Linked DNA regions of Homo sapiens: all the other regions are linked to region 3. The links come from fine-mapping of genetic effects on plasma protein levels. A gene starts in region 3. Each other region holds a variant in brackets. All regions are shown on one strand. Distances are from middle to middle. Region 1 overlaps FRZB (frizzled related protein). Region 2 overlaps NCKAP1 (NCK associated protein 1). Region 3 holds the start of FRZB (frizzled related protein). Region 4 overlaps FRZB (frizzled related protein).

The links. PIP is the chance, under the fine-mapping model, that this variant and not a neighbour inherited with it causes the effect. Protein levels are from antibody-based Olink assays in UK Biobank. Linkage for the fine-mapping came from a reference panel and not from the study's own genotypes, which makes the PIPs less certain.
Region 1: its variant is fine-mapped to the plasma level of the FRZB protein (UK Biobank, PIP above 0.99). The variant lies in the coding sequence of FRZB. If it changes the protein, the assay may bind it differently, which can mimic a change of level.
Region 2: its variant is fine-mapped to the plasma level of the FRZB protein (UK Biobank, PIP above 0.99).
Region 4: its variant is fine-mapped to the plasma level of the FRZB protein (UK Biobank, PIP above 0.99).

The regions. Positions count from the first base shown.
Region 1 is chr2:182,838,145-182,842,830 of GRCh38, forward strand. It overlaps FRZB (frizzled related protein), which reads right to left. Exons shown (of 6, transcript NM_001463.4): 3 at 4,334-4,399; 4 at 265-469. Among named protein-coding and RNA genes, the nearest start is that of FRZB, 26 kb to the right of the region's middle. The variant G/A (reference allele first, on the strand shown) is at 464.
Region 2 is chr2:182,917,849-182,923,289 of GRCh38, forward strand. NCKAP1 (NCK associated protein 1) reads right to left here. Exons shown (of 31, transcript NM_013436.5): 31 at 1-5,441. Among named protein-coding and RNA genes, the nearest start is that of FRZB, 54 kb to the left of the region's middle. The variant G/A (reference allele first, on the strand shown) is at 3,022.
Region 3 is chr2:182,864,052-182,869,559 of GRCh38, forward strand. FRZB (frizzled related protein) reads right to left here and starts at 2,586. Exons shown (of 6, transcript NM_001463.4): 1 at 2,024-2,586. The coding sequence starts at 2,501. RefSeq lists an enhancer at 1,749-2,717.
Region 4 is chr2:182,844,717-182,850,224 of GRCh38, forward strand. The region is part of intron 2 of FRZB (frizzled related protein); the gene reads right to left. It overlaps LOC124907916 (a long non-coding RNA gene), which reads right to left. Exons shown (of 2, transcript XR_007087330.1): 2 at 1,859-2,376. Among named protein-coding and RNA genes, the nearest start is that of FRZB, 19 kb to the right of the region's middle. The variant T/C (reference allele first, on the strand shown) is at 2,439.

The DNA.
Region 1 (4,686 bases), 26 kb before region 3:
TTATTAACCATTTGTAAGTCACAGACCCCTTTAAGAAACAAATGAAGTTATGGCCCCTCTCCCAAGAAAAATGTAAACCTATAAACTACACGCATACACCCATTCCATATATGAAATCAAGAAACCCAACTAAAACTTATCTGTAATCCCCAAGAAGGTAGACAGATCCCAATGTAAAAATGCGAGGGTAGCATCTCTAGAGACAAATTTAATGAGAGTAGGATAAGCAAAGTAGTTATTCTGTATCCTTAAAGAGTGAATTACCTGGAACGTTCCTCATCTTCATAGCCCATGATGATATATTCCTCATTAACATTAAGTGGAGGGCAGAGGCAGCCAGAGCTGGTATAGAGGTTGACAGTGTCCCGTGGAATGTTTACCAGAGAGGACTTTAGAATCTCCTTCACCTCCACTACTGCAGTCACATCATGGCACTTAGTCTTTATCTCTTTAACTTTAGCCC[G/A]AATGACTGGGATAAAAGACAAGAAAAGCTGATAATAATATGACACATAATAGCTACCCCATTCAAAAAAAGCCAAAGTAGGCTTCTCTTTAGTTAATTCTTATCCACTTGATATTCAACGAATGGAACAGAAAAGTCAGCCAGATATTTTTGCCTTAGACTGTAGTGTGTGACATAAAACAACACACCTGACCTAATGCTCAGCCCTGCTCTCTTTCCAATTTGTGGCTGTGTATATATTTGCATGTATTTATGCATGTGTGTGCATGTGCTTTTGAGAAATCCATTTAGAGAATCAAAGATTGAGTCAACAATCTGATACAATTTTTCTCTAAAATTCCATTTTGGATGTGTATATATGCATGTGCAGTTCCAATTGCTGCCAAGAGGAATTTAAACTATGTTAATTTTACTATATGAAAAGACCTAATACTTAAATATGCTTTATTCCTTGTCGACACTGTTTTATCAGGTCCATTAACAGGTTTTCTCAAGTAGTGGGCCTCTGTAATGTTATAAAATTGTCCTGCTCAGTAGTGTTCCCAAACTGGTTCTGCAATCTTTTCACCTTCCTCATCTTGGCTCACTGTTCAGATATTAGCTCCTTTCTTTCTTTGTGGTCAGTACAGATTATCTTTTATATTCTCCTTTAGGTGGGCTACATTTTCTTCTTTGTTCGGATATTAGGTCCTTTTTTCCTTTGTGTTCAGTACAGATTATCTTTTATATTCTCCTCTAAGTGGGCTATATTTACTTCTTGAATAAAAATGGTCACCACTAGATCTTATTTCCTCCATCTGCTTTGAAGTCAGACACTCCAACATTCCTTTCCCTCACGTGCTATGGAATATATTCTCACGTGTCAATGGCATTATTCTACCTCTCTCAATGGATATATTGGCACCCAATTTATCTCACAAGACTTGCTTTACTTATCAATGTAACAACAAATTGCCTTCAGTTGCAAAGTTAAAGTATGTGACTCAGAATCTAGAAAGTACAGATCTGCTTCTTTTCTGTATCTCTCCCCTTTAAAAGAGTCAAGTTGTTCAGATTCCTGCTTCTAGTAAATGAGCTTTTAAAAAGAGAAGTTTTAAAACACCAAGAAAGAAGTAAAAATATCAGTAAAAAGCCAGTGGCATTTCTCCCAGTACCCTCATTGCTCCAGTTCACTATCCATGGACATTATATAGAGGAAAACACCGTTTATCCAAATGAGTCAACATTTCAAAAACTTCTTAGGCACATAATTGCAAACCACTTTAATCTGAGTACTTTCCCACATATTTTAGAGATTTTGGACTATAAAGGATTAGAAGAAAGTAATCCTTGAAAAATATAAAACCAGCTAATCAACCATTCCCCCCATTAATGTTCCAATTTCGTCACAAAAACTTATTCTACCAGTACAACACACATGACAGAAATTAGTTACTAAGGAATTCTAAAAGCTTCACATTTCAGTCTTCCGAGAATTAGTTGCCTCAAGTATGAGAACGTGTAGCAAACAAACTGTAACTACCCAACTGTCCTCGCTTGGTTTGACTGGCAAGTGGAGCCTCTTTCTATTCATGTTCTCCCTATTCTGTATTTAACAAAAGATAAGATTGCCCTTTTTGAAATGCCATTTGGCAGAATCAGATGAGAAATTCACAACCCCAGCTAGCAGGCATTTTTGTGTGTCCTGGCTTAAGTGAACGTGCTTCATAGCATCCATCAACTATTAGAGATTAGTGAACTGTGCAAATGTTCTCAAACTAATGATTTATTTACCCAGTGTCTACTATTTTCATTAGAAATGTTTAGCACATGTACCCACTCCAAAATAAATATCTTTCTACAAGACCTACTTTTTCACTCAAGTAATTTGGTTAACACTTAAGGAGTTTTTCCCAGAATTAATCTAAATGAAGTAGAGGTTTTGTCTGAATTTCCAACTGCTCCCACCTTGACATGCAGATATAGAAGATAAAAATATTTTGGAAGTAAAATATACTTCCTTTTCAGAGTTCTTCCTTCTATTTAACCATTTGAGTGCCTCCCTTCCCCAAAGAAACTGTAAGAAATCCCAGACAAATGGCAATCCTGAAACTATGATCAACTTAGCTATTACTTGGCTACAAAAAAGAAATTATCTGCTCCTTTCCATTAATTATAATCCATATCCCATTTTATTATGATATTCATTCAGCTACTTTCTCTAAGACCTTCACTTTCCATGACTTGTCATTCAATTTTTAACAAAAATAACAGCAACAACCATTGAAGCACTACAGAAGCTAGATAAAATAAAACTTGATAATAGGATACATAAATTAAATATAAATAATTACATTTCCCTGATATAAAATTGATATGTTTTTATTCTTAGTGTTACAGTATATAAAAGTTCAGAAAGCATTTTTCAATCTTAACAAGCTAATCTCCTAGAAATTAAGGGCTCCCTTTTCCCTAGGCTTCTTCACATCAATCTGTAAAGAAGCGGGTTCTTAGATAAGCAGCCAGGCATTTGACTTCTTACATAAACATAAGCTTACAAACTTAGAAAGAGCATCCATCATTGACTAAGAAAAGCTACAATCCTCTTAAGAGGAGTAGCAGGCAAAACATAGAAATTAATTCCATTGAAGAAAAATTTGGGAAACAAGGTGGATTTGTTTTAAAGAGATTTAACTAAACCCAAAATTTTCAACTTTATATTTTTTAATACACTGCATTTTGAAAGATATTGAAGCTAACTTTTACAGTCTTATTCATTTCTCTCCTTTCAATTCCCAAAAGTATAGAAGAAATAAATCTGCTGTATATATCCTATATACTTTAAAATAGTGTACATAAATGTAATAATAAAACTCTTATTTTAATAAGGTTCACTGTAAAAGTCTGTTTAATCTCCATGTTTACTCATTGACTCAACATCAATAGTCTTATGCAGAGATAGTAACATACCTTTTATTAATACCATAGATATTAGAAAAAATCAAAATGCATATGGAATACAGTAAATATCAGTCCCTTATGTGTCAACGGGAAAGCTCTGTTAATTGCCCTTTCTAAATATAATGACTGTATAAATGAATTTATGACTCTAAAATATACACCAGCATCCAAAGTACATTGTGAACAATCAAAGAAGGGACTACTTAGGTTCGATAATCATTGATAAAATCAAGATGGTAATATATCTCATGGGGCAGCTGAGAAAATTAAAGATAATGTATGGAAATCACTTAGCACAGTCCCTGATGCAAAAATGGCAGGCTTTTTAATCCTTCAGTTAAGTTTGTCAGCTACATTTGGATTGGTGGCTCTTCAATTAATATTTAGTTTATTAGAATGTCGGATTTTAAGTCAAGCTAGATAACAACACATTTCCTTCGCTGAATACCAGCAACTTCTACAAGTGTTACTTTCCAAATCTGTCAGTGTTTTTCATGGGATAGACTGACTGAAGAAGTCAAGTTTGAGTCTTTTAACAGTTCCTTATGCATCAAAGTGCTCTGCTGTTCACTCAGTGAAGCACAACTGATGGCCTATGCAACCCAACTTGAGCTCAAATCCTCCTTCAGCCTCCAGGCAGGGAAGAGTCCCATGTATCTTGATACTTATCTCTGTGTACTTAAGTGCATGGCTCTAGGATGACAATACTGCTTGATGTGCTTCAACATCAACCAAGTGTTAAGCATTTTGCCCGTGTGAGACATTTTAATTGGTCGGGGCAGAGGGACTATGCTCCTAAAAATAGTCCTTCTGTTTTTAAGCCTTATTCTTAAATGGCTCCACTCGTTTACATGTGCACATCCTCATAGGTGCATCCACACACCTCTCTTAACACAGCAGTTTATACATCAACCATGAAATTTTCCTTACCATAGTTGTAATTGTTCCGGAAATAGGTCTTCTGTGTAGCTCTAATAGGCTTACATTTACAGCGTTCTGAAAAACACATTTTAGTTATAAGCACATTTCCAATATTAGCTTTCTTTTGTTTTGCTCAGACTCACATTTTTTGCTCAGACTAGATCTCAATTTGGTGGTGAGAAGGCTCTTGTCAATTCTGTGTGTCTGAATTTTTTCTCCTGGAACTACATTCATGTTTATTCTATCTACATGTCCTCTTATTCAATGTCAGTATGCTCATGAGAACGAGTTTCCATTCTCAACAAACCACCCAAATCCTGAGGAAATGCTGTTCACCCCCATGCATGAGAAGAGCATGACCC
Region 2 (5,441 bases), 54 kb after region 3:
AATCTGATTTACTAGAGATTAATCTGAGCAGGATCAGAGAGAAAAAGTGAAGAAGCAAAGAAGCAACTTAGACCCATGAAGGCCAGAAAGTGGGCATAGTGTCCCCAAGCCCACAGTCATTTACCCAGGAAATGTTTTTTAGTGCTTTGGGAAAGAACATGATACAGTAGAAAAAATATGGGCTGGAAATCCTAGAGCCTTAGGTTTTAATCTCAGCACTGCCACTCAAACTCAGTAATTTTATGACACTGGGGCAAGGAATTTAAAGTTTTATGAGCTGGTTTCCACATTCATTTACAAAAATAAAGAAAACAATCCCTATTGAGTAATTTGGTTGTGGAGTTTAAATGAAGTAATGGATATGAAAATGTCTAGTATCAAGAGTAGCATAATGTAAGCCCTCATTGTTATTTTTTTTGTCCCTCATTGTTAATGTAAAGCAGTTTCAAATGCTACTGGATAGAATTTGATCCAGCAATCCTACTACTGGGTATCTACCCAAAGGAAGTCAATATATCAAAAAAAATCTGCATGTGTATATTTATTGCAGCACAATTCATAACTGCAAAGATATGGAACCAACCTAAGTGCCCACTGACCAATGAGTGGACAAAGAAAGTGTGGTATATATACACACCACGGAATACTGTTCAGCCATAAAAAAAGAAACAATGTCTTTTTGCAGCAACTATGATGGAGCCAGAGGCCATTATTCTAAGCAAAGTAACTCAGGAACAGAAAACCAAATACCGTATGTTCTCACTTGTAAGTGGGAGCTAAGCTATGTGTATGCAAAGGCATACAGAGTGATATCATGGACTTTGGAGACTCAGAAGTGGGAGGATGGGAACGGGTCTAGGGATAAAAAACTACACATTGGGTACAATGCATACTACCTGGGTGACAGGTACACTAAAACCTCAGACTTCACCAATGTATGATTCATCCATGTAAACAAAAACCCACTGTACCCTAAAAGCTATTCAAATTTTTAAAACATTAATTAAAAAATGCTATTGGTTAGAAAAGTCCACACTCACATTTGAGAGATCTGAGACACAGTTTAATGAGAAGAACACAACTCTGGGGCCAGATTTAAATGTTGGCCTCTGCTACTTCCTTGTAGTGTGAGTTTGTAAAAATTGCTTTGTCTTTCCTGAGCTTCAGTTTCCATATCAATAAATGGGGGTCATCATGATATAGGATTACTGTGAAGACTAAAAGAGCAATATTTAGAGGTTTGAATTAGAGAAAACAGAGTATCTGGTACACAATGGGCTTTCAATAAACATTAGCTCTCATTATTATTCTAGTCAGCATTTTTGGCTTGATAAAACCACAACTACCAGTTAAGGTCAAATTTTCCCCTCCTAGCCATCACAAGTTCTGCCATCTGGGCCTTGCTTCAGACTGCAAAGACCCTTGTACCTTTTGGCTGAAGGTAAGAATTCAGAATGAACTGACATTCAGCATTAACCTGTAAAGTTGTGTACTACCTGCTCCTCAGCTTCAGCTTCAACCTTTGCAAGATCTAACAGTTAAATGGTTAAATGACTACCTACTTCAATGTGCTTTCTGGCAGCCAGAATCTGCATGCAATCAATGACCATGTGACTAACGTAAGTTATGGTCATACCTAATTAGTATGACATTCTGATTATTAACTGGATATTTCCTCTCAAATAAAGATAAACATTCTATATGTAACTTGGAGTGAAACTCATGTGTTTTATACATTGAATGCTATCAGTTCAAGGGTGAATATGCCTTCAGAATGCAAGTGCTTTTTTTTTTTAATGTATTATAATTTTTTTTTTTTTTGAGACAGAGTCTTGTTCTGTTGCCCAGGCTGGAGTGCAGTGGCATGATCTCGGCTCACTGCAATCTCCGCCTCCTGGGTTCAAGCGATTCTCCCGCCTCAGCCTCCTGAGTAGCTGGGATTACAGGCGCGAGCCACAAAGCCCAGCTAATTTTTGTATTTTTAGTAGAGACAGGGTTTCACCATGTTGGCCAGGTTGGTCTCAATCTCTTGACCTCAGGTGATCCATCCACCTTGGCCTCCCAAAGTGCTGGGATCACAGGAGTGAGCCACCGCGTCTGGCCTTAATTATTATCGAGACCGGCTCTTGCTCTGTCACCTAGGCTGGAGCGCACTGGTATAATCATGGCTCACTGCAGCCTCGAACCACCCACTGCCGCCAACCCTCCCCTTGGGCTCAAGCAATCCTGCCACCTCAGCTTCTCAAGTTGCTGGGACTACAGGTGTACACAATCACACCCGGCTTTTTCATTTTTGTATTTTTTTTGTAGAGATGGGGTTTAGACATATTGCCCAGGCTGCTCTCGAACTTCTAGGCTCAAATGATACCTCTGGCTCCGCCTCTCAAAGTGTTGGGATTACAGGCGTGAACCACTGTGCCTGGCCACCAGTACTTCTTACGTAATACTTGCTGTAGAGAATCTCTTTCTACTCAAGGGAAGATGCTAAAACTGGTGTTCATGCAATTAAAGATGACATGAACATAGACATTCAGAAGCAACACTGTCATCTTGAGAGCCACATCATTCCAGTGTCACATTTCTAGAACCAAAATATGAGTCCGTGTGGGCTGCTATAACGAAATGCCTTAGTCTGGTTTATAAAGTTTATAAGCAAGAACTGTGAACAATAAATTTGTTACTATAAAAAAACTTCTTGCTTATAGTTCTGGAGGCTGGGAAGCCAATCAGTGTGCTGGCATATTTGGTGTTTGTGGAGGGTCTGCTTTCTGGTTCATGAACAGTGGCTTCTTGCTTTGTCCTCACGTGGTGGTTGGGGCAAGTCGGCTGTCTGGGGCCCCTTTTACGAGGGCATTAATCCCATTCATGAAGGCTCCACTCTCATGACCTAATCACCTCCCAAAGGCCCCACATCCTGTCACACTGATGATCAGATTTCAACATATGAATTTTGTGGCCAGGGGGACACAAACATTCAGACCACAGCACAAAGGTTAGGGACAACTTCTTAAGTAATTGTGT[G/A]ATGCAGCAAACACATGCATAAAAAAAAAATCAGAAATAATGAAAGTAAACAAGGGCAACATTATCTTAGGTTTGTCTCTGAAAACATTCAGGACGCATCACTGAGTAGTGCACAGTTTTAGTCTGTGAGCACGCTTCAGTGAAATTATATCACCACTGACCACAAAATCTTCAAATCCCAGAGTTGAAGAAAACACTTTTAGTCAGTTACTAATGGAGAAAAAATAAATATAATTTGGTTGCAACCTCGTAAGTTGCTTCCTGTTCTATAATTTAAAATAACTATCTTAAATTAGTAGTTTAATGAGTGAGCAATTTAGCACCTGATACTGCTGAGAAATTAATGACTCTGCACTGCATTAAATTTAAAAAATGAGCTTTAATAAAATTACAGTAAATTTTAAATATGATTTCCTACTTATTCATGGATTCTAGAAGCTTATTTTATGATGGTAATCTTCAGTTTAGGTCTTGGTGAAATAATTTCAAGCCTTAGCCATTGGCATTTGGTCAGTATGTGTATGTAGTGTACTATGAATGTGACTCAGCCATATACTACAACTGAGACAAGGCAATCACCAAGGTCACATACCTAGTACAACCCCATCTCCAGGCCACCCATTTACCAAGTTTGTGGCCCTCATGTAAGAGGTGACCAAGATGCACCTGCACCAAGAGCACCAAGAGGATTGTCTCAATCCTTAAGAGAAAGAAGAAGGTAAGGGCTGGGGATGAGGGGTGCACTTAAACCAGAAATGAGACATGGCCCTCTGTGGCTAGGATCCTAACTTCAGATTGCTAATTTATCCCATTTTACTTAGGCCCAAAATGACAGGCTGAATACTTTTATTGGAAATGAAACATTCCAGAGTTAGACATGTTTACTCTGGACAGTCAAGGACAGCGATGTGTAGGGAAAGTTTGGTTCATGCAAAAATGAATGAAATTTTAATACACTTAAAGTTACTTCTCACTCTGAAAATAATACCAAAGTAGAGTCAATAAATATTAAATTTCCTTCCAATTCCACAGGACCAATTAACGAAAAACATAATTTTTGTACTACAGAATAAAAATTTTAAAATCTCAAATATTTTTTCCCAAAGGCAGAGGTCATGGCAAATCTTCGGAGAAAGAGAGCATTTTGTCTATTTGAAAATTCAGGCTCAGGCCTTCAAATGAAATGATGGTTCATGCTGTCATTTCAAGTGACTACAAAGAAGAAATGAAAGAAAGATGTAAGGAGTCACTACTTTAAGGATTATTCACAAAAGTCTTAGGAATAATACAGGTGAAGTCTCAGAAAGGCAAGTCCTTATAACAGAATGGGCATGGATCATGTACTAATCAGTAGGTTACAATTCACTACCTTACAGAATTTGGGCTTCATTTAGAAGGCCTGATGGTGTACAACAGACTTTACATTTTCACATTAATGCAAGAGCCTATCAGTGAATTCATGTTCATTTCCTTTATTAACCAGCCTACATTAGATTTAATTTGTGAACTCTGCTATATAAGCAAAGAAGAAAGCAAGCAAGCACATGATCAGAAGAGAAAAAGAGCTAGATAGCCCATAAGGCTCCTAGAGGGAACTTGAGCACTCCTCATGACAGAGACACAGATGACACACTTCTAACTTCTCAAACATGCCAAGTTTGTGCTTGCCTTCTGGGTCTTTGCCTTTATTATTCCTCCCCTCAGCCCACTTGTGGTTCCTTCTAATCCTTCACGTACCAGCTCAAATGTTTTCTCTTACACAGATGACACTTTCTTCTAACACTTTCTTCTAAAGTAGTTTCACCACTGCCTCCCCACATTATCCTGTATACTTTCCAGTCACCATCAGAAGTTTGCTCATGGCTGGGCGTGGTGGCTCATGCCTGTAATCCCAGCACTTTGGGAGGCTGAGGTGGGTGGATCACCTGAGGTCAGGAGTTCGAGACCAGCCTGGCCAACATGGTAAAACCCCATCTCTACTAAAAATACCAAAAATTAACTGGGCGTAGTGGCGGGCGCCTGTAATCTCAGCTACTCAGGAGGCTGAGATGGGAGAATTGCTTGAACCCGGGAGGCGGAGGTTACAGTGAGCCGAGATCAGGCCATTGCCCATTTCCTGGGCAACAAGAGTGAAACTCCGTCTCAAGAAGCTGGTTTGTTTATTGTATACCATCACTAAAATCCAAGCTCAACTATAAAAGGGTCACCTTTTTGCTCACCATTACATGCAGGCATCTAAAAATACTTGCTTAAATAAGTGAATGAAAAAGCAGCAGAAAGGAAGCAATTTTACTTCTGAAAAATTATTCTAAAAAAATAACAGGTCAACTTTACCAAGATATAGATATACATTTATAATAATGAAAAGAAATTGTCTAAAAATCTATCCAATCTATCCAAATGAGTATTTTCTTTTTTTT
Region 3 (5,508 bases):
GCATTTTAAAGAAGCTTAGAAATCAGGTCCCATGAACTGACAAATTGTTTCCATGCATGTCCTATTTGAGTGCTTCAATGAGGCAACTGTTTCCATGTTTGTTCCACAGTGATTGGTAACTCAGGGACACTTAATGAAACTGCTTCCTATCCATATTGACTATGGCTTTTTGAGAGCCATTAACCTTGCCAAACCTCACTCACTCTAGGTCCACCTCTAAGGGAGGTTTAAGAGCAAGTTTTGTGCTTTACGGGGAGGAATGCATTTCAGCCTGAACCACTGCCACCTCATTCCTAGCCCTTGGCCTGAGAGGAGCACCTGCATTTAACTGATTCTAAGTGCCTGGCAAACCAGAGCGGCAACTGCACTGAGCACTTCCAGACTCTGCAGTCTGTGACTTTAGTGAGTACGAAGCCTCAAGCATGCTCTTTTAGCAAAGATTAATAGCAAATACATTTCTGTGATGATTTTGCACAACTAGCTTTTGGTTCTTGATTAAAATCAAGAAGACAATAGGTATATTCAAAAAGTGATAAACTAAGTGAGGTCACCATTAAAAAGTTCTTGAAATTCTTCTGTTTATTTTTTTTCCTTCAGCTATTTTTACAATTACTTCTCCTTCTCTCACTTTGTTAAATGAGTCAACGTGCACAGAAGGTAATTTTTCCAAATCAATTTCCCGATAACTAAGAATTACTACCTGGAAATGGACTGGGGACATGCGCCTAGACTGCGCAAGTTGAAAGAGGAAGGAAAGTTGATGCCCAAGAAATAAACAGATGGAGGCAACCAAGTCAACACATCTAAGAACAGAGTTGTTGGGGGGTGGGGGATGTGGTATGAAAGAGGACCACTCATGAAAAAAAATTGCCTTCTTTATAAAATATATGAAGGGTAAAATTTGAGGTTGGGTTAGTTGGTAGAAGTAATACTGAGTTAGAATTAAATGGACCATAATGAAGTAGGTTTAGTTGGGGTCTTAAAGTTACAAATGTCATAATTAGACTAAACACTAGTGAGAAAACAACTTGTGATTGACTCCATTAAATTTAGAGCTGCAATAAAGTTTTATGGTAGGGAAAGACTGAAATGACTGTGGTTGGTGCACACACGGAAAAGGAGCATGAAATAAGGTATTAAAGACAATTTTTTTTTCAAAACATGAGAGTGGAATAAGGGGTGAGATTTAAAATAACATTACGTGAGTGTATGATAACACGCCTTAAATATAACTCCTTTCATCTGTATGCCACTTATAAAATGACTTGAAGGCATGTGGGCATGTGAAAAGAGCTCAGTAATTTCAGTCTGCCAGCTCTATGGCAAGCCACAGAAGCTAATTAACAGTGCATAGCAATGTTTCACAATTGTTTCATTCTGGAATGGAAGAACAATTTATCTCATTGAAAGGAGGGGGAAATTTAAGGTGAAGGTAATTGCTCAAACTGGATCTTGAGCAAACACATACCCCTAACATCTGTCGGTTAGAGTAAGGTTATTGAAATTATCTTGGCATTTTTAATTAGAAGAAAATGGGGCTTCAGTTTTCTGTTTCCTCCACACAATCTTAACAAGCATCTAAGACACTAAAGATACAGAAACCTGATGACTGAGATTGCCTGAGAATCAGCAAAGAAAACCCAATGATTATAAACACATTTTAAAAGAAAAAGAGCATCACTTTACAAAATGTGGCTACTTGCACATGTAAGGAGTTGAAGTGAAGGATTCCTGTGGAGTAGAAGTGTGATGGGTTTGGAATGCATGGATTGTTTTAGAAAGATCGCCTATTGGAACACAGTGCCAGAGTGCATCAGTTTGGAAGGTGATAAGGTGAGGGTTTTTTTGTTTTTGTTTTTGAAAAAAGAAGAAAGAAGAAGAAGGGTCTTTGATAGAGGAGCAGTTATGGGAGAGATTAAGTGATCCGAAGAGAAAAAAATTAGAGAGTAAAGGCTAGTAACAAGGACTCCAAGAATTGAGGAGGCTGTAGGGTAAGGGAAGGGTGGGCCGTGTCAAAACTCACCAGCTCCGTCCGCAGTAACGATGGCCTCGGGAGAGATGCACACGCCCCTGTCGTACACTGGCAGCTCCTCGCAGGCCAGGTTCTCCGGCCACGAGTGGCGGTACTTGATGAGTATGGGCTCACAGCCCTGCCGGGCCCGCTCGCACACAGACTTACAGGGCTTGATGGGCTCGTGCTGGAAGTCAATGGTGCAGATGGGCGCGTACATGGCACAGAGGAAGAAGAGCAGATCGGGGCTGCAGTGGGTGCCCAGCAGACCTTCGAACTGCTCGATGGCCAGGATGGCGTTGGCCTGAGTGCTGTGGTGCAGGTGGTTGGGCATCTTAGTCATGTTCCAGGGCAGGGACTTGCACAGGGGGATGCGGACGGGCTCACAGGCTGCAGCCCGAGCCCCGGGCACCCGGAGCAGGCAGAGAGCAGCCAGGGCAAGCAGCCCGGCCCGCAGCAGCAGCATCCCTCCCGGGCTGCCGCAGACCATGATCCCGGCAGGATGGGGCAGGGTGCAGCCGCGCAGTGGACGCCAAAAGGCCCGCTCCGCCGTCTCCGCCTCCCCCGCTGCAAGTGGACACAAGGATCTGGGAGCTTCTCCTCCCCCGGCAATCACCGCTTCCTTGGATCAAATTCCCCCAATGGGGTCCCACGAGCTTTACCGAGCTCCAGCCACCGCCCCTGCCGCCCAGGCTGCTCTTTCCCAACGTCTAAGCCTTCGGAAGCAGCAACATCTATTTATTCCTCTCCCTCTGGCAGAAGCATCAGACTTCGCAGATCAGTCAGATAAGAGGGACACGAGAGGAGGCGAGGAAGACATAAAAACAAAAGTAGAATTCAGCTGAGAGCTAGTTGGAGCTCTGGGGTGTCTCCTCCCCTAGATCACGCACACAAAAAGATGCTAAAGAAAGCATTAAATTCCCCAAAGTGAGGAGGACAGAGGGGTTGGGGGGAAGGAGGGAGGAAAAGCTCCTAATGGGAGAGAAGGGTGCAGTAAGAGTTTACAAGTCCTGTGTGGGCTAAGAGCTGCGGCCGCCGCTGCGGCTGCGACCCTGGCTGGCAGGAGGGACGCTCAGGAGGAGCCCCGCAGGGACGTCTGTGCCTCTGCCCGGGCGGCTCTGCACTTTCCTACCTCCCGCCTGAGAGGGAGCTCCGCCCCTGGGGCAGTCTCTGCCCTCCAGTGCCGGCTGCTCTTCCCGAGAATGGAGTGGGCGCCCGGGGAAGAGAAGGCCTGGGAGTCGCAGGCGGTGGGGTGCGAAGCCGTGCGAGTGCGAGACCCCAAGACAGCGCCGAGTCGAGCGCGCCCTCACACTAGGGAACCCGTCTTTGGCCCCAGAAACGAGCCCCTAGCCCCTCACTGAAGAGCCCACCCCAATTCCCTACGGAAAAGTCCCCCTAGTTCCCCACTTGGGAACCCACCCGAGACCCTCCTTCCTGGAGGTATTTCCTTTAAGCAAACTACAGCTTTTCCTCTGCAATCACTGGCTCTGCAGAAAGTCAGACCTGGTGGGGGGAAAGGCTTAAGCAATGTCACTTTGTCCAAGTAGCGGAAAACACAGACCCCTGCGAGCAACGGTGGAGCCATATCAACCCAGAGCTAGTGACTACAGAGGTCTCCATTTTCAATAACTGCGGGGGAGGAGGTGGGGGGAGGATTGCCTTTAAAAAAAAAAAAAAAGAGAGAGAGAAACAAAGAAATGCTGTTCATGACTACAAATAGGCCACCAGAAGCAAGGAAAAGGGGTTTTTTCCTTCTATTCCCGCCCCCCCCACCTAGTGGAATTAGAACTCTTGAGCTTTGCTCCTTAAGGGTTAACGTGGAAACTAACAGCTCTAATACACTTGGACTTTTTTTTTCTGATTTTGCTCACGGATAACATGGCAGATATTATTTGTTATTCTCAGCAACAATTCTGCCCGACACTTAAAAAAAAAGTGTAGGAAAACGACATCACGCAGGTAATAATGATGATTATAACAACAATCAAAACCTTTCCATCCAGATGAGTTCAATCTGGAGGAGAAAATGGAAAACAGATCCCCTCCTGGTCTGCTTCTTCCACTAATGAGCTCCCTCTTCCCCCCACCCCCGCCCCACTCTACCCTTTCAGCTTATATTGTAAATGGAATGACCTGCAGAGGCCTTCACACTATGCCCTCTCAATGGGAAATCACTGAGCAAAAGGATTGCCGAATGTCAGAAAACACAGCCTTCATTGAGAGGAGAAGGAAACAAAACCTGAAACAAAACAGGAAGTCACCTTTGCTCTGCATCACTGAAATATTTCTCTGCTTCAATTTAGCCATCTCTCACCGTCCATAACAAGCAGAGAAATATGTCCCCACTTCAGAGCACATAGTGAGATGCTCATTTTCATTCCCTAGAGTGACTTGACAGCACTTATAAAATGTCAATGCTAACTTGAGTTATGGAATTTTATATCTAAAATGATCATAAACAGCAGTTTGTGACTGCTGTAAATTTTTTTGGAAGGAAGTTTGTTCCACTTATGGTGGCGGGGGCGGGGAACACCAGATGGTAGACAGGGAGTCAGTTAGTATACAAACTTTGCCTGGTCTACAATTATCTAGTGTCATGTAAGAGAACAAATTCAAAAATTGTACAAACGAATTTAAAATGATTTATCAAGTAAAATTTAGAGGAAAAACAACTTTAAAAGACAGTCAACATTAGAACATTTTGGGACTATTTTGTATAAGAAAAATATAGCTGAGATTTTCAATAATTAGAAGAAAAAACATCAGGAGTAGATGTAGTAGATTGTTTGCTAAATACATTTTTCTGTTCATCTTAAGTCTTACAGTGTGAGAAGAAATGTGCCAATAGTTTTAAAGGTTCTACAACTATTTGAAACAAAGTCTGTTTTCCTTCCCCTGCACAAAAGTCAGCTATCTTCTTTGTCTAATAGGTCCCCTTACAACTTTAATCCAAATTTGTTTTTATAAAAGCCCAAAATAAATGTCACTGTCTTGAGGAAGCCCTTTTGAGTACCTTGTCTAGTTGTGTTCATTTTTCTGGTTAGTTACCCTTGAACAGTGTTTGTTTTTACAAATTATTCCTTTATTTATTTATTTATTTATTTTGAGATGGAGTTTTGCTCTTGTTGCCCAGGCTGGAGTGCAGTGGCACTATCTTGGCTCACTGCAACCTCCACCTCCCGGGTTCAAGAGATTCTCCTGCCTCAGCCTCCCTAGTAGACTCACAAGCTCCCCACTTGTGAGTCTCCAAAGTCTGTTATACCTCTCAAAGATATGCCTTCTTGTACCCATAGCTTTGCTCTCATTTATAAGTGAGAACATACAGTATTTCATTTTCCATTCCTGAGTTAAATCACCTAGTATAATGGCCTCCAGCTCCACCCAAACTGCTGCAAAATACATTATTTCATTCTTTCTTCTGGCTGGGTAGTATTCCGTGGTGTATATATACCACATTTTCTTTATCCACTCATCATTTGATGGACATGGACACTTAG
Region 4 (5,508 bases), 19 kb before region 3:
GATTTTTTTAAATTATATTACAAAATGATTTAGTAATATTTCAAGTAGGCATTTACAAAGCTATGCATACAACTACATATACATAGCTAGACTATTACCTAACAGCTAATGAGCTAAGCAAATATTCTCGGGACTAAATTTTGCTCATCTGCAATATACTTCTTATTTCTGCTGGTCTCCAAGGTGACAATGCCATACTAAATATATATTTTAAATATTTATATGGGACAATATGTCCCAATCCCTAGCTCTTGCCATAAGCAAATTATCTGTATAGTTCAAGTAGCTCGATAAAATAACAGTAATAAGGAGAAGCTGAGTTTATATCCACAAAGCTCAAATATGAAAGAACCTCCTCTCATTTATGCTTACTCAACCCAAAAATTCATATCTTAGGTTATTCATGAAAAGGGTATCTTAGATCAATAGATCTGAAACATAATCCTCATCTGAATTATGTTTACACACATCAACGTACACATCCCCACAAGCCCAAGAACTGTGAAATTGTGAAGAATCAGAGAGAGGTATGTTGCATGCATTAGCTGTCACCTTTTTTGTGCCTGCTACCCTAAATCAGATGTAACAGTTTATTTTTATTACCTATAGTTGATTTCTTGATACTCTTTTTGGGGGGCCTGTAGCATTACCATCATTTCTTGTTTAATTGCTAGTAATCTTCCTCTCCCAACCTCCTAATGGCACAAGTTTTTTAGAATGGAAAATGAAATCTATTATTTACTGAGCTTTGCACAAAAACCATTAGATATTGATTTTTCTGTATTTCACTGTTGAGAAGAAAAGCTTATAAATGAATTAGCATCTGCCTTGGTGCTTTATGTAAGGAAAAAAAAATACTTTAAAAGTTAAAGGAGTTGGTTTTGACAAAATAGGCTAAGTAGTGACAAAGAGATCTTCAAACATGGGCAGTTTTAACATTAGCAATTCATTTACCTCAAAGCCTGAAATTAATACAATACCTTCAATTGTGGGACAGAGTGCAGTGCTACATTTACCAGCAGCCATGGAAAGGACAGAAAACTATTTTCAGCTTAGTTCTTCCTCACATTCCTTCCACTCCTCTTGCTTGATTTTTCTAGTGACTCTCCTAATACTAATGATCTCCTACATATCTGCTAATGAACCTGGAGACTGTTTATTTCATAGAAACATGAGTTTATCACCCTAGTAGAAAGAAATCTGAGTTTGCAAAGTTAACATGCCCAGTACTTCGCAGAAGTTAGTCTGCAGCTCAGGGGAAATGCCCCATGATACACGCAGTGCCCGAGCAGTGAACAGCCTTGCTGCCTCAGAGTAGCTTCTTATAAAGATCAAAATAGTTCAGAGGAGACAAGAATCTTAGCCTTCTTTATTCAGTTTTGCTCATACAAATATGCTCATTTATTTTTTAAAAACAAAAGGATACTAGTATTTTTGATATGATCTTAGAAGATCTAAAGAAGTCTAAGTCCCTGATACAGCTATGAAATATGACACTCACTGGACTGTCACTATTTAATGCAACATTGTTTGAGTTCAAGCTTAAGTGTGATAAAACTTTCTAACTATCCCTGACCTTTGTTTGAAATTGAATGCTTTTGGGTCTTATCCAGAGGTGTAAGACTATAATTAACTTCATCAGATCCCCAAACTCTCATAACCTTTCATGTACCATGACTTTGGAGGACTACTATGTTTGAGTGGATATTTTTCTGTTTTTTCTAGGAAAAAAAGCCTCAGATCTGTGCTTAGGATTTATTGTCAAAAACTATGGGGAAGGAGAGAAGAAAATACAATTGTATTTGTGTTACAATCTCCTTTATAACTTTTTCAAGACTGACCTTTTCTAATCAGATCAGAGTTTAAATCATTTTAATTTTTACCAGATGCACTGTAAGTCTCATATCCTGGCATTTGACCCCTGAATCCCAATTGTCCTCTTTTCCTCCATTTTAAAACACATAGGAGCAAAGCACAACACATTTTAAAAGATATAAAAAATAAAATTTTATAATTTGAAGATCCAGGTCCTTAACTATGACTTTTTTACTGAGCTCTAGATCTATATTTCCAACTGCCTGTACGAGGTATCTATGAGCAGTTCCAAAATTTTTAACAGTTCCATAATTTTTAACATCTGGTAACATCCATCACACCATGAATTTGTCTTTCTTCTGTAGAACTGATAGTAGTATCTTCTGACTCCATAACTCTGGTGTATCCATTCTTCTGTAAATATGAGATGAGAAAGGGAAAGAGAACTAACATTTGTTGAACTCTTTCAGTCACTTACATATGAATTCATTCATTCTGCAAATATTGGGCATCTGCTACATTCCAGGCTCTGTGATAGGCATGTAGGACACATGATGGGCACTACAGACAATCCAGAAGAGGATAAAGACATTGAACAAAGAAAGTACACACAAAATAATTTG[T/C]CACATGTGATACATGACATGAAATTAAAACACAATGTATATGTGTAATAAGAACATATAACTTAATGACCTAAACTAGTCTGGCCTCCAATATACTGTGAGAAAATGATATTTAAAGCTTTGGGTGAGTTGTAGTTCTCTAGGCAGGAACTACATCTTTATATATAAGACAGAGAATATGAAGTCCATAAAGGAGACTGAGAAGCAGCATCCAGTGATGTGGAAGGAAATACAGGAGAGTGTGGAATTGAAAAAGCGTCTTCCAAAATAAAAGCAGGGTAGTCCTCTGTGTCAAATGACCCTCAGAGCTAAAATGAGTTCAGAGAGAAAAGGGTCCACTAAATTCAACTGGCAACGTGATGACTGGACCCTGAGCAAAAGAGAGAATAGGACTTTGAAAGCTAGAAGACTTTATCCACTACACAAGAAGGAAAAGGAGAGAAAGGTACTGATATTGACAAGTTTGTAAATTGGTTGGTGGAATAATGAGGGTGTTCTTTCCAATGGCTTTTACCTTCTCATTGAAGAATGAAGTGAAGTCATCAGCTATGGGGAATGAGGGGCTACGAAAAGCAGGATGTGGGCATGTAAGCAAAGAAAGTATAAAGCAGTTATTTCATCAAATAGAAAGGCAAACCTTATAGTGGGTAAGAATGCTTGGCAATCTTGATTGTCTATTTGAATTTTCTATCTTGAATTTAAAGTGAAACCAGTCACCTCAGTTGAGTAATTTTCTCAAATAACTGGAGTTGGGATTTGCCAGATGAGTATGGAAGAGGAAGAGAAAGCAAAGAAATTGAGGGTATCTTCAAGGGTATCAGTATTGCAGTAGACCATGATATCTCACATAGACAAGAAGGCCAGAGGCTTAGCAGATAGTAAGCAGTAGCTGATGGATAGGTAATCTCAACATGGTAAAAAAAAAAAAAAAAAACAGCAGTGATGATACTGCAACAAATCATCTGGAATGAAAAGAGGCAGCAGGCAAAGAATGGGATTCTTAGAATTAATATTACAATGCTGGCACCACTGCTAGCACCACTGAAAGGCCCAGAACTGCTCATGGAAGTGAGTGGCTGGGGTAGAATAGACAAGCAGGTTAGTAAAGTGAAGAAATCAGTGCACTAGATGGATCATCTACCTTATCATCACAGCTATCAAAACAGCAGCAGGAATGGATGCCATGGTGGAACTTGTTCAGATAGCCCTTAAAACAGAAGATGGGCAATATACCACTTGGCCATTCAGGAGGTCAATTCCACTATCCTTCTAGAAACAAGGCGATAGTAAAACATCCCTAGATTCCACCCCATGGAACACATTCCCTCTTCCCAAAATTGCAAGTCATCAAATGGACACTTAATGGAAAACCGACAGGGTCTTATTGTTCCTAGGGCATTAACAAACAAACAAAACACCCGAACCCTAGAGTCCTGGTGTCAATGATGAAAGGGAAGAAAACGAACAACAACAACAACAACAGCACAACTCCTGCAGATTCAGAAATCAACTATATTAAACTAGGAACCATATAGAAGTCATATTGGTATTATGCTCATACAAGGGTGTACTTTTACACAATTAGAAATAAAATAAAATGATGCACAGAACTCAAAGTCTCAAAAATGCCATGGTATGCCAAAGCAGCCAGTCCCAAGTGTGTACAGTATGCTTCCATTTACGTGAAGCTGAATAACGACACCCATCTATGGCAATGAAAATCAGAACTGTGCTTGCCTCAGGGCAGAATGGGTGATAAGACACCAGACAATTTAAAGAAATGTTCTTTAGGCCGGGGTGCGGTGGCTCACGTCTGTAATCCCAGCACTTTGGGAGGCCGAGGCGGGTGGATCACGAGGTCAGGAGATCGAGACCATCCTGGCTAACACGGTGAAACCCCGTCTCTACTAAAAATACAACAAATTAGCCGGGCGTGGTGGCAAGTGCCTGTAGTCCCAGCTACTCGGGAGGCTGAGGCAGGAGAATGGTGTGAACCCGGGGGGTGGAGCTTGCAGTGAGCTGAGATCGCGCCACTGCACTCCAGCCTGGGCGACAGAGCAAGACTCCGTCTCAAAATAAATAAATAAATAAATAAATAAATAAATAAATAAATAAATAAATAAATGTTCTTTATCTTGATCTGGATGATGGTTACATAAATATATACATTTGTCAAAATTTAAATGCAGCATACACTTAAGATTTGTAGTATTTTACTGTAAATAAATTATACCTTAATAAAGTCCTATTAACAAAAAATAAGACATTTCTTTCATTTTTTTATAAAAGGAAGTGTGTCTTGACTTAGTAACCATTCATTACCTATGTAAAACAATATTTATTTCCTACACCTATACACAGGGCAAAGAATATCATATTAAATTTTATTTTGGATTACACCAGTATATGGAAAATGTGATGAAGTTGACTGGTGAACCTAGGCGATATAACAAGGCTTTACAAAGTAAAAGTAACATTTGCTCAACTTAGCTGTAAAAACAAACCTCAAATATTGTAATAAAGGACTCAATTCACAGTAATTTGCACTTTGTAAAAGAAATTGCTTAAGACTGACAGAACTAACGCTATATTAATAAGAAAAGGAAATTCAGTTTATTCCTTTTTGTCTTTGGAAAATTTCAAATAAACTGCCTTTCACAAGTTTTCTGCATCCAAGAGTTATTCAGAATATCCAAAATATAGAAAGAGTCAATACAATTATGCTTGTTTTCCCTCATGACTTCTGAAGTGTTGTTTTGAGATAGACTCTAAGGAAGTCAATTAACAAAAAGAAAAGGGGGCTTCACAGCCTCTAGAACACCATGTGTCCACTCAATGCCAAGTATTGAAAAGAGGTGAAAGGAAAGGGAGTGCCAGTCACCTATTTGCTCTTTCATTCCATGTCATTGGCACATATTGTGCCTGATACGAGTAAGTGTCCCTTATATTTTTTATTAATACATAATAGATGGACATATTTTCAGAGTACATTGATATTTTCATACATTCATATAATGTGTAAATATCAAGTTATAGGGTAATATCCACCACATTAAACATTCCTCTTTAT